Linked DNA regions of Homo sapiens. The gene in region 2 interacts genetically with the main gene of each other region. Each region holds a gene or a part of one and is shown on either strand. Other genes may lie near its edges.

Evidence for each region.
Region 1: changes in KDM5A (region 2) and KDM6A together harm fitness more than expected from each alone (negative genetic interaction), as found in Homo sapiens cells (one large-scale study listed by BioGRID).

What each region holds. Positions count from the first base shown.
Region 1 is NC_000023.11:45,109,981-45,113,358, forward strand, and holds the end of KDM6A (lysine-specific demethylase 6A), read left to right. Parts: intron 1-98; coding exon 99-269; intron 270-1,401; coding exon 1,402-1,431; 3' UTR 1,432-2,799; downstream 2,800-3,378. UniProt on the Homo sapiens protein: Histone demethylase that specifically demethylates 'Lys-27' of histone H3, thereby playing a central role in histone code. Demethylates trimethylated and dimethylated but not monomethylated H3 'Lys-27'.
Region 2 is NC_000012.12:284,526-288,357, forward strand, and holds part of KDM5A (lysine-specific demethylase 5A), read right to left. Parts: intron 1,138-3,832; coding exon 931-1,137; 3' UTR 1-930. UniProt on the Homo sapiens protein: Histone demethylase that specifically demethylates 'Lys-4' of histone H3, thereby playing a central role in histone code. Does not demethylate histone H3 'Lys-9', H3 'Lys-27', H3 'Lys-36', H3 'Lys-79' or H4 'Lys-20'.

The DNA.
Region 1 (3,378 bases), on a different chromosome or scaffold from region 2:
TCCACAATTTCATTCAAGTAGAATTCCATGATTATACTAAAGCAGTACAGTAAATACCACTATCTCTATTGAATACGTTTTTCTCTTGTATAAAACAGGTGGAGGTTTTTGATCTGCTTTTTGTCACTAATGAGAGTAATTCACGAAAGACCTACATAGTACATTGCCAAGATTGTGCACGAAAAACAAGCGGAAACTTGGAAAACTTTGTGGTGCTAGAACAGTACAAAATGGAGGACCTGATGCAAGTCTATGACCAATTTACATTAGTAAGTCAAATCAACATGTGAGTACATAGTTAGCTGGGTTATGAAGCAGCAGTGTTTGCTCTGCCACCTGATAAGTAGGAGGTAATGAAATATTTTAAATTTTCCTTTGGCTCATTATATATTGCATGAGGGTATATTCATATCATTCCCCCCTCCATTTCCAAGTATTTATTCCTATAAAATTGGCATATATCATTTTCAGTTTTCCTGGGTGAGACCAGCCTAAATAATTTTACAACAATTACATTTAAAAATCTTTGCGTGCTTTAGATAGAACACTATCATATCCTTTATGTCATTTTATCTCAGTTGATAAAATGTTTGTGTACGTAGGTTATTAGAGCCCACAAAATGAATCAGTAAGTGTGCTTTTAAATATACTTCTGCTTTTAGAGCTAATTGTATTTGTTTAAAATTTTGTCCTTGCCAGAAGTATTAACCTCATGGGAGTATTTAATGGAGCTTAACTTCCTGGTATATTATGTAACCTTATGAAATTCAAGTATACTTATAAATTGCACAGTTTTTAATTTCAGACAGCAGATGCTTGGGGGAAGCATTTTACTTTCGCAGATCAATAGCTTTATGAATAGAAACACAGAGATAATTTATGAATTGTTGATTTTCTCCAGTACTTGTCTCCCACACATATGTGATCAGAAACTAACTTTTTGAAATTTACTTTCTGATATTTTCACTTGAATGGTCTTCAAGATTGCTTGAAGAAGAAAATTATCTGAAATATGTTGAAGAAAATATATTACCTAGCTGAGATAGATTCTGAAGGCAGTCACTAGTGAAATTGTAATTTGTTAAATTATTTTGCAAGAAGCCCCCTTTTTTTAAGCAATCTTAAAAAATGGTAAACGTAATAACATTCCAAGAGTTTTTGACTAATTGGTGAAGAAGTATAGAAAATTGCAAGTACACTGAGTAGGATAATGGTCTTAGATTCTTAGGAAGATTGGCTGAATGGGAGATAGTAAGGTAGGCTGTACTTTTATGTTGCATAGCAGGCTGTTGAACTTTTTGAGAGTTATTTCCCCTAACTTCACAAGCAGACTATATGTTTGTAGCCATGAGCTATTAACAATTTGTATATCAAAATAACCTACCTTACTTTTATTTTCAGGCTCCTCCATTACCATCCGCCTCATCTTGATATTGTTCCATGGACATTAAATGAGACCTTTTCTGCTATTCAGGAAATAACCCAGTTCTGCACCACTGGTTTTTGTAGCTATCTCGTAAGGCTGCTGGCTGAAAACTGTGTCTATGCAACCTTCCAAGTGCGGAGTGTCAACCAACTGGACGGGAGAGAGTACTGCTCCTACTCCAGGACTCTCACAAAGCTGATGAGCTGTACTTCAGAAAAAAATAATAATTTCCATGTTTTGTATATATCTGACAAAACTGGCAACATCTTACAGACTACTGACTTGAAGACAACCTCTTTTATATTTCTCTATTTCTGGGCTGATGAATTTGTTTTCATCTGTCTTTTCCCCCTTCAGAATTTTCCTTGGAAAAAAAATACTAGCCTAGCTGGTCATTTCTTTGTAAGGTAGTTAGCAATTTTAAGTCTTTCTTTGGTCAACTTTTTTTTAATGTGAAAAGTTAGGTAAGACACTTTTTTACTGCTTTTATGTTTTTCTGTCTTGTTTTGAGACCATGATGGTTACACTTTTGGTTCCTAAATAAAATTTAAAAAATTAACAGCCAAGTCACAAAGGTAATGGATTGCACATAGACTAAGGAATAAACTTCAGATTTGTGATTTTTGTTTCTAATCTTGATGTAAATTTACACTATTTATAAATACATATTTATTGCTTGAAAATATTTGTGAATGGAATGCTGTTATTTTTTCCAGATTTACCTGCCATTGAAATTTTAAGGAGTTCTGTAATTTCAAACACTACTCCTATTACATTTTCTATGTGTAAATAAAACTGCTTAGCATTGTACAGAAACTTTTATTAAAATTGTTTAATGTTTAAAGAGTTTTCTATTGTTTGAGTTTTAAAAAAGACTTTATGTACAGTGCCCAGTTTTTGTTCATTTTTGAAATCTGATTATATATATTTTATATATACTTATGTATGTATATATAATATATATAGAAATCTGGATATATATGTATAAATCTTTAGAACTTAAATTTTTCTCGTTTTAAGTTTCACATCTATGGTAGATTTTTGAGGTGTCTACTGTAAAGTATTGCTTACAAAAAGTATGATTATTTTTAAAGAAATATATATGGTATGTATCCTCAAGACCTAAAATGTCAGACTGGTTTATTGTTAAGTTGCAATTACTGCAATGACAGACCAATAAACAATTGCTGCCAAAATGTAGTATAATAGTAGAAAACAAATAGTGATTGAACTTAAGATTTTAAAGGGACTGTTATATGGGCTTGACAAATCCTGTACAATACTTAGTACCATTTTATATGGAAAAGGGGATTCAGGATGAAGGGCTCTATTTTAGAATGCAAATAAATTAAGAGACTTATTTTTTAATGTTAGGCAGTTTTGAAATCTCATGCTTTTTTGCTTGCATGACATGATTTGGGGGAGGAGTGCTGCAAATTCCCTATCACTAGTAAAATATAGCAATCTATATTAGCATTCACAAGTCACTGCTAATTAATGATAGTATTTCATTTTGTAATAACAGCACCTTGCATTTGTACCTCCATTTTCTGACGCATTTGACACATACTCTCATTTAATCATATTGTTCTTTGTATGAATTTTCCAGGAAGCATTAGTGAAGAAGCATAGAGAATGCTGTAAATCAAGATTATATATATATATGGCTAAAGAGAGCTTATTCTATCTAGTGAAATGCCCTGCTGATTGCATTAATCACATACTCTTTCAGATTTAGAGTATGTTATCCTCTTAGAAACAGTTTGAAGGTTGAAAGCATGGAGATACTTTTTTCGATTAGTTAATAATTTGGTAAATATTGGCTATCTACTAGAAGTAATCATCTCTTATTTATAATTTAAGGGAAAAATGCCAAATCTATTTTAATTATGGAGCAAGAATGCTTGTCTAAATGCTATTCAGGACATTTAATCACTAATATTTTTAAGTGG
Region 2 (3,832 bases):
CATGCCTGAAGCCTGGTGTCTGGAATACTTGTGAATGAAGTTTTCCCCGAAAAGCATGCATCACTGTGGCTCAGTAAGATAGTACGACTGGTCATCATCGTCATCTTCTTCTCTTTTTTTTTTTGGCAGAAGCCTGGATCCATGTACCTGCTCTTCCCTAAAATGTAGACCCAAGACAGCAAGACTTTTCAAAGCCAAAAAACGGCTCCTTGCCTTGTAGTAGGTTCTTCTCCTCAGAATCCAATCTAGTCAGATTTCTGATCTAGATGATATCCTCATCTTACAAAGATAAGGTGACCTGCCCCAGCTTGTGAGAGGTTCTCCTATTTGGGATGTTCTTCTAGCACAAACAAGCACAAATCGCTGAGGTCAATAGACTGTGATACCATTCCTTGACGTCTAACAGAAATAACTTTGGCCCTGTTACTCCTAGTTGTATCTTTAGGGCATTAAGTACCAGGTAACAGTGGAAGGAAAGTGGTACTCCAATCCCTCTCCAACTATCCCAATGAAGGAGATCCAAGCAATTAGCACCTTCAGTTGGTGCTGCTCCTAAGTTGTAAGCCTCTAACTACTATCAGCTGGACAAAAGCCACATCCTATATGCCCTGTTAGCACACCAATGTATTAATACTAACCAGCCACCCTAGAGCTCAATTAAGCATCTGGCCTTAATGCAGTAAACCACACTCAAAGGAGACATGAAATATTGGCTGTTGTACCAAAGAAGACACCCTCTGCATAGATATGTTGATAGAGAATGTAACCCACAGAGTCCATGCAAAGAGGAAGCCAGCACTAAGGGGACTTTCTCTGAAGGCCATTCATCTTTGGAAGCAACATTCCAAGTGGATATAAACCACTCTACTTGATGACTAAGGTCTCAATGTGGTCCATGTCCCCCCATGTCCCAAACTAACCAAGCATCTGCTAACTGGTCTCTTTAAGATCCTCCATTGGTAGTTTGTAGCTCATTATGAAGGAAGGAGGTGGTGCTGGACCTGGGCTAACTGGCCCCTGCTTCTTTGCACAGTTTATACAGATGTAATCTTCATTTTCAGCCATTTCTGGAGATACACCCACACAAACTTGATGAAACCACTCATCACAGCCACCATCACATTGTACCCAGTCTACCTGTAGGAAACAAGATTGGGGAATGTTTAGGTTACATAAACATTAAGCCTAGAATAAAAGCAAACCAAAGAGCTTTCTTGGCTTAAACAATAGCAAACAACTGGGATGTCTAGATAGGCAATGACTTCTTATGGGGTTATTTTTTAAAGAAAGAAGCTGAGAAGTTAATACCCCAAAATTATATTTCACCATAGTGTGTCCACAAAATTAGGCCTCTTAGGTACTCCATTACCTCATGAATACCTGGGGCTCCTTGTGAGGCAGAAACATGTTTGAGAAAAATTTGACAAAAAGGGAACTTCTAATAGAGCAGCCAAGTAGTTTTAGCTAATATTAACAATTTCTAGGCTCTAAGACAATGCAATTATCAATCAAGAAAGGAAGAGTACAACAATGTGAAGGCAATCCTGTGTATTAGCTTTATTTCAAAGAGATAAGCCAAAGTACTAAGAGCATTAAATACCTTTTTAGAAAAGCAGTCACATAGGCCACTTTTAAAACTAATATTTTTTATTCTTCTCTTCTTCCGTTACAAATACAACTCCCTATAAAAAGTTAGCAAATATCAGATGTCAAATCTTACAAATTAACCAATTATAACAGTCAAAGACACAGGTCAATAGATCACTCTGGGGTTTAAAATTAAAATCTGAAAAACTGATAGGTCAGTGGCAGGTGTCAAACTTTGACCCTTCTGACAATACTGTGATTACAGGAGGCTAGGAAGGGATTGTAGTTTGGTGACTTTAAGCCTTGGACTTAAGAGTTAACAATAAAGTGACTTTTGGCTTTTATATTTGAAGGCTGATTGTGGTAGTTTTTACAGCTAATGTCATGGCAGACAAGAACATTTAAGATGAAAAGAGCTACTCTTCCTCACCTCAATACCAAGGTTGGTCATTTCATTGGTAACGTTAAGAAGCCACTTAAAACCATGAGCTTTACCAGATATCAAAGTAAGGAATAGAAAGGGATCCAAGAAGTACCTCTATACAACTTAAGAGAAAGAACAGATGAAGGAGGTTTTGGCTAGGTAAATGAGTTTCATTCATAGCAACTGAGTAGTTTTCAAAATTAGTTTCCATGTCCTATAAAAAACTGTCAAAACCACAGTAGTCACGTCAGTAGTTTTAGGCTTGTAATAAGGGGTGGGAAAAATAATTTGTCAAAATGATATTCTACTTGTTTTGTTCCTATGCTAAAGTTCTAGATCTTAAGAGACAATATTGTGTTAACATCAAGATTACTCAACTCAGAAGCTCTGAGTTCCAGTGTGTATCATTTCAGGCAAGTCATTTAACCTGAGTGACTCAATTTCCTCATCTGAAAATGGAGATGACATTAATTACAAGATTACCGAGAGGATCCAATGAAATAATGTATGGCAAAACACCTAATTCACTGCCCAGGATACTGGAGGCACTTTCCAGTCATGGTCTCATGGCTCTACTCATTACCCTACACTACACAAAACGTTCTGCACCTTGATACAACTGTCGGCAGCACTGCTTTTCAAAGTGTGTAGACCACTGGCATCAGAATCATCTATTGTGTTTGTTTAAAATGTAGCTGGGACCCATCACCCTATGAACTCAGAATATCTGGGGAGTACAAGCCAGAAGCTTACATTTTTAATCAGCTCCCAAGTGATTCTCATATATTCTAAATCCGATCATTGCTGGCCCTCTGTGATATCACTTCCTGTAAATTCAGAGCAACTTAACAATACCTTCCTAAACTGATTTTTGTTCTGTAATTGATTGTTTAGCTTCTGAAGTCTGTGCAATAAAAAAACTCACCAAAATGTTCCTATTGTAGCAAACTAATCAGAGACCAAAAAAAAAAAAAAGGGGGAAATAATGGCATCTGTGCAAAATGTAAAAATTAAAGTACTGCAAGCAGTAAAAACACAAAATGCTAGCTGTAGAGTACGTGCACTCAGAGTGAGTGTTTTGGCTGTTTGGGACTGGTAAAGGGAACTGGATAGATAAACTGTGGTTCTCTGTGCTGCCCAGGTTTGAGATACCATGCTTTTTATAATGGTACCTGTGAACCAACAGTTACCTTCACCCTTACACCTCCAACCCTCTTTCTTAATCCAGTCTAGTCCCCATTCATGCTAATCCATTGGATAAGAATGTTATTAATGTATCAGTATTTGCTACAAAGAAAAGTGTCCCATGTCTTTTTAAATCTAGTGTTTGCACTATACTCACTGGCTTACAATTTCCCAAAATTCTCTTACAAATAAGACAATACTTTCCCTTTTGTGATTTTGACTAAAGGTCCCTTCCTAAGCCCAGATCTTCTACCATTTCAAAAGAGTATATAACCTTCCTTGAGATACTGGTACACAAATTCTAACCTAGACTACAGGTTATATAACAATTTAGCCTGATAATAGAACAAGCAAAAAATAGTCCTTCTCTTTACCAATATCTTTTTTATCATGTTCATCTACTAACAATCAACTCTGAGTTCTACTTTTGTGTGAAAGGCCCACAGCAACATAAAGCAAACTAAAGTTTGGGATGTCAACTGAATCCACAGATGATTTTGACACAGGGGCAACAGACTATGTAGTATCCTGAAAACTCAAGAACACAGAATTTGGATAACTGTATAAATTGTCATTTCCCCCCCTTTCATTATTTCTAGGAGATGTATTTAGTGAATCACAAAAATAATTACTAAA